2 linked regions of the Homo sapiens genome follow. The protein of the gene in region 1 interacts with the protein of each later gene in a biochemical or structural test. Each region holds a gene or a part of one and is shown in the gene's direction. Other genes may lie near its edges. The genes, in order: MAP4K1 and DBNL.

The links.
Region 2: the proteins of MAP4K1 (region 1) and DBNL form a complex in vitro, tested with the Homo sapiens proteins (one study listed by BioGRID).

What each region holds. Positions count from the first base shown.
Region 1 is NC_000019.10:38,600,732-38,604,556, reverse strand, and holds part of MAP4K1 (mitogen-activated protein kinase kinase kinase kinase 1), read left to right. Parts: intron 1-2,862; exon of another isoform or gene 2,863-3,031; coding exon 3,032-3,116; exon of another isoform or gene 3,117-3,144; intron 3,145-3,825. UniProt on the Homo sapiens protein: Serine/threonine-protein kinase, which plays a role in the response to environmental stress. Appears to act upstream of the JUN N-terminal pathway.
Region 2 is NC_000007.14:44,054,682-44,058,506, forward strand, and holds part of DBNL (drebrin-like protein), read left to right. Parts: intron 1-2,075; coding exon 2,076-2,222; intron 2,223-3,100; coding exon 3,101-3,178; intron 3,179-3,447; coding exon 3,448-3,599; intron 3,600-3,747; coding exon of another isoform or gene 3,748-3,750; coding exon 3,751-3,799; intron 3,800-3,825. UniProt on the Homo sapiens protein: Adapter protein that binds F-actin and DNM1, and thereby plays a role in receptor-mediated endocytosis.

The sequences.
Region 1 (3,825 bases):
GGCCTCCCAAAGTGCTGGGATTACAGTCATGAGCCACCGCGCCCAGCTACTAAAAATTTAAAAAATTAGCTGGGCGTGGTGGCACACACCTATGGTCCCAGCTACTTGGGAAGCTGAGGTGGGAGGATTGCTTGAGTCCAGAAGTTAGAGTCTTTTGACAAGATCCATCAAAACCTCCATGAGTCACTACCACATATGCAGTTGCCCAAAGAGCCAAGATCTCAAGAAATTTTACCTCTCATAAATGGAGATGTACAAAAAGAACATCTCTTTATTCAGGAAGTTTCAGTGTTTTTACGTACATGCATAATGCCTACACACGTAGTCAGTGTTGTGATAATGCACCTTTGTGGCATCAAATTTGCCAACAAATGCATAAAATGAATTAGAACTCTCTAAAGTCTTTTTTTTTTTTTTTTTTTTTTTTTGAGATAGTATCTCGCTCTGTCGCCCAGGCTGCTGGAGTGCAGTGGCGCGATCATGGCTCACTGCAGCCTTGACCTCGGAGACTCAAGCAATCCATGCACCTCACCCTCCCTAGTAGCGCTTGGCTAATTTTTTTTTTTTTTTTCTGAGATGGAGTCTCACTCTGTCGCCCAGGCTGGAGTGCAGTGGTGCTATCTTGGCTCACTGCAACCTCTGCCTCCCCAGTCTAAGTGATCCTCCTGCCTCAGCCTCCTAAGTAGCCATGACTACAGGCGCCCACCACCACGCCCAGCTAATTTTTGTATTTTTAGTAGAGACGGAGTTTTGCCATGTTGGCCAGGCTGGTCTCAAACTCCTGACCTCAAGTTATCTGCCAGCCTCGGCCTCCCAAAGTGCTGGCATTACAGGCGTGAGCCACCGCGCCCGGCCCAGCTTGGCTAATTTTTAAAAAAATGTTTTATAGAGGCAGGGTCTCACTATGTTGCCCAAGCTGGTCCTGAACTCCTGGGCTTAAGTGATCCTCCCACCTCGGCCTCCCAAACTGGTGGGATTACAGCCGTGCCTGGTTGGCTACCGGCTAAAAGTATGTATAATTTATACCTCCAGCACTGGAAATGATTCAAAGATGAAATGCATAGCATAATTAATCATACATATATACATATACATATATACACACACATATACATGTATATGTGTGTATATATGTATACGTGTATATATATGTATATGCATATATATGTACATGTGTATATATGTATATGTGTGTATATATGTATATGTGTATATATGTATATGCGTATATATGTACATGTGTATATATGTATACATGTATGTGTGTGTGTATATGTATGTGTATATATGTATATGCGTATATATGTACATGTGTATATATATGTGTATATGTATATGTGTATATATGTATGTGTATATATGTATATGCGTATATATGTACATGTGTATATATGTATACATGTATATGTGTGTATATATGTATATGCGTATATATGTACATGTGTATATATGTACATGTGTATATATGTACATGTGTATATATGTATATGTGTATATGTATATGCGTATATATGTACATGTGTATATATGTATACATGTATATGTGTGTATATATGTATATGTATATATGTATATGCGTATATATGTGCATGTGTATATGTGTGTATATATGTATGTGTATATATGTATATGCGTATATGTGTACATGTGTGTATATATGTACATGTGTATATAAGTATATATGTACATGTGTATATATGTATATGTGTATATATGTATATGCGTATATATGTACATGTGTATATATGTATATATGTATGTGTGTATATATGTATATGTGTATATATGTATATGCGTATATATGTACATGTGTATATATGTATACATGTATATGTGTGTATATATGTATACATGTATATGTGTGTATATATGTATATGCGTATATATGTACATGTGTATATATGTATATATGTATAGGTGTGTATATATATGTATATGTGTATATATATGTATATGCGTATATATGTACATGTGTATATATATGTATATATGTATATGTGTGTATATATATGTATATGTGTATATATGTATATGCGTATATATGTACACGTGTATATATGTATATATGTATATGTGTGTATATATGTATATGTGTGTATATATGTATGTGTGTGTGTATATATATGTGTGTGTGTGTGTGTGTGTCTATATATATATGTATATGTGTATATATATATATGCTGGCCAGGCACAGTGGCTCATGCCTGTAATCCCAGCACTTTGGGAGACCAAGGCAGACGCATCACCTGAGGTCAGGAGTTCGAGACCAGCCTGGCCAACATGGCGAAACCCTGTCTCTACTAAAATACAAAAATTAGCCAGGCGTGGTGTTGTGTGCCAGTAATCCCAGCTATTCAGGAGGCTGAGGCAGAAGAATTGCTTGAGCCCAGGAGGTGGAGGTTGCAGTGAGCTGAGATTGCATCACTGCACTCCAGCCTGGGCAACAGAGTGAGACTCCATCTCCAAAAACAAAACTGACAGCTGGGAGTGGTGCCTCACGCCTGTAATCTCAGCACTTTGGGAGGCTGAGGCAGGTGAATCACATGAGGCCAAGAGTTCAAGACCAGCCTGGGCAACATGGCAAAACTCCATCTCTACTAAAAATACAAAAATTAGCTGGGTGTGGTGGCACACGCCTTTGGTCCCAGCTACTCAGAAGGCTTAGGCATGAGAATCAGTTGAACTTGGGAAGCAGAGGTTGTAGTGAGCTGAGATCATGTCATTGCATTCCAGCCTGGGCAACCGAGTGAGACTCTGTCTTAAAAAAAACAAATGCTGATGATTTAGGATAGTGGAGGAAAAACTAAAAAAAGAAATATATAACAACAACAAAAAAAAACAAAAACAAACTGAAAAGAAAACTCAATGTATGAAAAAGTGTATTACAGGGATAGATTATGGGAAATTGCACCAAGGTAAGAGGCAGGATTTGAACCTTGGCACTCTCGCTCCAAAGTCGTAACCACTGCCCCTTCCTGTTCCCTGCTCTCTTTGCCGGATCTGCTGCCTGGCCCCGCGGCGACCTGCCCAGGGATGTGCCCTTCTCGTAAAGTTGTTCAATGGCTGCCCCCTCCGGATCCACAGCACGGCCGCCTGGACACATCCCTCCACCAAGGGTGGGCATTCTGGAGGGTCAAGGAGATCCTGTAGGGAATGGGAGAGCAAAAGTAGGGGTGGGGAGAAGCCTAAGGAAGGCACAAAGGCAGGGACGGGGAGGAGCTTAATGGAGTTGGGGTGTGGCCAGGCTGAAACAGGGGCGGAGCTTGTCCTTACACTCAGGATTTGGTGATCAAAGATGCATAGAGGGCAGCCAGGTGTGGTGGCTCACACCTGTAATCCCAGCACTTTGGGAGGCTGAGGCGGGTGAATCATTTGAGGTCAGGAGTTCAAGACCAGCCTGGCCAACATGGTGAAACCCCGTCTCTACTAAAAATACAAAAGAAGCTAGGTAGGCCGGGCATGGTGGCTCACGCCTGTAATCCCAGCACTTTGGGAGGCGGAGGCGGGCGGATCATTTGAGGTCAGGAGTTTGAGACCAGCCTGGCCAACGTGGTAAAACCTCGTCTCTACTAAAAACACAAAAATTAGCCAGGCGTGGTAGCACGTGCCTATAATCCCAGCTACTCAGGAGGCTGAGGCAGGATAATTGCTTGAATCCAGGGGGCGGAAGTTGCAGTGAGCTGAGATCATGCCACTGCACTCCAGCCTGGGCAACAGAGCAAGACTCAGTCTCAAAAAAAAAAAAAAAAAAAAAAAATGGGTAGAGGGATGAGTTGGAGAGTGAAAGTAGGAATATTGGAATTCAGGGGCCAGGAGTGTCAGAAT
Region 2 (3,825 bases), on another chromosome or scaffold:
TTATTGTTAACTATAATTTCCCTTCTGTACTATTGAATACTAGAATTTATTCCTTCTATTTAACTGTACTTTTGTACCTGTTAAGCAACTTCTCTTCATTTTCTCTCCCCCATGCCCTTCCCAACCCCTGGTAACCAGCATTCTACTCTCTCCCTCCATGATACCCACTTTTTTAGCTCCCACATGAGTGAGAACATGCAATACTTGTCTTCTGTGCCTGGCTTATTTCCCTTAACATCATGACCTCCAGTTCCATCCATGTTGCTGCAAATGACAGGATGCCATTCTGTTTTATGGCTGAATAATATTCCCTCATGTTTATATACTAAATTTTCTTTACCCTTTCATCCATTGATGGACGTTTTGGTTGATTCCGTATCTTGGCTATTGTTAATAGCGCTGAACTTCAGAGTTGGATATATCCCCAGCAGCTGGATTGCTAGATCATATGGTAGTTCTGCTTTTAGTAGGACTAAAATACTGTTTTAAAAACCATACTGTTGTCTAGGCGCGATGGCTCACGCCTGTAATCCCAGCAGTTTGGGAGGCCAAGGTGAACAGATTACCTGAGGTCAGGAGTTCAAGACCAGCCTGGCCAACATGGTGAAACCCCGTCTCTACTAAAAAAATACAACAATTAGCCAGGTGTGGTGGCGGGCACCTGTAATCCCAGCTACTCAGGAAGCTGAGGCAGAGAATCTCTTGAACCTGGGAGGTGGAGGTTGCAGTGAGCCGAGATTGTCCACTGCACTCCAGCCTGGGCAACAGAGTAAGACTCTGTCTCAGAAAAAAACCCAAAAAACCATACTGTTTTTATAATGGCTGTACTACTTTACATTCCTACCAACAGTGTATAAGAATTTCCCTTTCTCCACATCCTTGCTAGCATTTATTTTTTATGTTTTTTATAATAGCCATTCTAACTGTGGTGAGATGATAGCCCGTTATGGTTTTGGTTTGCATTTCCCTGATGATGGTTAGTGATGTTGAGCATTTTTTTGTATGTAGTTAGCCATGCGTATATCATCTTTCGAGAAATATCTGTTAAGGTCTTTTGCCCATTTTAAAATCAGATTATTATTTTTTTGCTACTGAGTTGTTTGAGTTCCTTATATATTCTGGTCACTAATTCCTTGTCAGATGGATAGTTTGAAGATATTTTCTCCCATTCTGTAGGTTGTCTGTTTACTTTGTTGATTGTTTCATTTGCTGTGCAGAAGCCTTTTAGCTTGATGTAGTCCAATTGGTTGATTTTTGCTTTTGTTGCCTGGGCTTTTGAGGTCTTAACCCAAAAAAAATCTTTGCCCAGATCAATGTCCAGGGGCATCTACCCAGTGTTTTCTTTGAGTAGTTTCATAGTTTCAGGTCTTACATTTAAGTCTTTTTAACCCATTTTGAGTTTTTTTTTAATATGGTAAAAGATGAAGATTTAGTTTCATTCTTCTGCATATGGATATCCAATTTTCCTAGCCCTGTTTATGAAGGAGACCGTCCTTTCCCCAGTGTATGTTCCTGTCACCTTTGTTAAAAATGAGTTGGCTGTGTGTGTGAGTGCTCTGTTAGTTTCCATTGTTGTGTCTGTGTTTATGCCTGTACCATGCTGTTTTGCTTACTGTAGTTTTGTAGTTTAATTTGAAATCAGGTAGCATGAAGCCTCCAGCTTTGTACTTTTTGCTTCAGATTGCTTTAGCTATTCAGGGTCTTTTGTGGCTTCCAGATGGCATTTAAAATTAGTTTTCATTGATTAGAAGGAAGGCCTTTGATGCAAATTATGCCTGGGCTGTCTATTGATACACAGCAGGGAACAGCTACAGAAGGAACCACTGGATAGCACAGTGGAGGTCAAGGGTCTCACGTGAACTGGGACAAGAATGAGGGGTTTGCTCCAAGTTGGTTTGTTTGAGCCCTTGAGGGGAACTCGTGCCTCAGTTTTCAGCAGCCAGACAGGTGCCTTCTAGTTTCCTGATTCCAGTCCTGTGTGGTATAGTAGTGGCCCGTGCTGTATGGACTGACAGGAGTTTGGCCCATCTCCTGGGCTTGCAAAGCCCTTCTTTCAAGTGCTGCTCCTGCTGCAGGGGGCCCATGTGACCATCAACGCACGGGCCGAGGAGGATGTGGAGCCTGAGTGCATCATGGAGAAGGTGGCCAAGGCTTCAGGTGCCAACTACAGCTTTCACAAGGAGAGTGGCCGCTTCCAGGACGTGGGACCCCAGGCCCCAGTGGTGAGTGCTGCTTGCCCATCGCCAGCCCTTTTGTTGCTCAGGGCCTGAGGCAGGGGGCCAGGAATATGCACTTCCCAGCACCCGGGCTGGCTGGGCCCATGCCTGCTTAGTTTCTGCAGATGGTAACCCCTGAGCTGTGGTGATTGCCCACTGACCAGATGAGCAGGAATAGCCCTCTGACCTTGCCTAGGGGTTGGACTAGCTGTTCTGGAGCCTTCCTCTGGAGCCCAGCCTGTGTGGTCAGAGTGGAGGCTCTGCAGCATGCATGGCTATGATAGTCTGGCTGCCCTCAAGGTCATGGCACTGGAACATCTTGGGCTGCCCCTGGAGGTAGCCACCGTGGAGGAACTAAAGGAGGCATCAAGGCGGAGCCTGAAACCAGAGCAGGCCCCTTGGAGTCACGGGAGATACCTGTGGGCCTGTGGCCCCAGTGCTGTGTGGAGCTGATGGCTGGGAGCTGCGTCCGCATGCGTGTGGTTGGACGTGATTCCTTGGATGCTCTTGTGGTAGTCAGCTGTCTGAGTGCCCCTGGTCAGAGGCCTGCCTCAGAACTGCCCAATGTCTAGGAGTCTGCAGGTGGGGTATGGGGGCCTTTCTTGCCCTGGCCCCCATCCATGAGGGCGAGAGACCACCAGAGACCCCTCTAGTGTTGTCTGGGATTGAGCATCCCCCTTGGGGCAGTGTCCTGGGCTTCTTTCAGGTCATCTTGGTGTGTGTCTCCTTGAGGGTCACTGGGCAGTGCTCTGCTGCCTCTGCTGGGTCCAGTCCTAGCAGCACTCACCTGTGCTGTCGCAAGTTTAGCGTATTCTCTCCTTTGGTGCCTGTGGGCCTGGCCTTCCACCTGGGTCCAGGTCTCTAATGAGTGCTGTCCCCTACAGGGCTCTGTGTACCAGAAGACCAATGCCGTGTCTGAGATTAAAAGGGTTGGTAAAGACAGCTTCTGGGCCAAAGCAGAGGTGAGTGCTGCCCCGGGGCATGCTGGGCACGTGGGAGTGTTCTGCTTGCTGTGGCTCATCTTTCCTCACAAGTGAGCTCATGCAGCATCCACTCTCCTTGGTGCCCATTACAGATGGTCACACTGAGGCTCGGGTAAGTTAAGCCACAAGGCTAATGATCGACTGGCTCTGGTGCCCGTCTTTGGCCATGTGCCTAAAACTCAGTCCTGGGCAGGGGATTAGGCTGAAGTGGCAGCATAGGGCTGAGCGGGCAGTGGCTCTCCCTGCAGAAGGAGGAGGAGAACCGTCGGCTGGAGGAAAAGCGGCGGGCCGAGGAGGCACAGCGGCAGCTGGAGCAGGAGCGCCGGGAGCGTGAGCTGCGTGAGGCTGCACGCCGGGAGCAGCGCTATCAGGAGCAGGGTGGCGAGGCCAGCCCCCAGAGGTGAGCCAGAGGTGGAGGCTGGCCTGGGGGACCCACCCTGAGGCATTGCTGGGCACCTGCTCCATCCCATGGAGGCGAGGAGGACTAAGGGGTGTGGCATGAGAAGCTGTGACTGTGCCTCAGCTGTGCCCCACCCGGCCCTTCCCAGCAGGACGTGGGAGCAGCAGCAAGAAGTGGTTTCAAGGAACCGAAATGAGCAGGTAAGATGGGGGTGCTCTACTTGTTT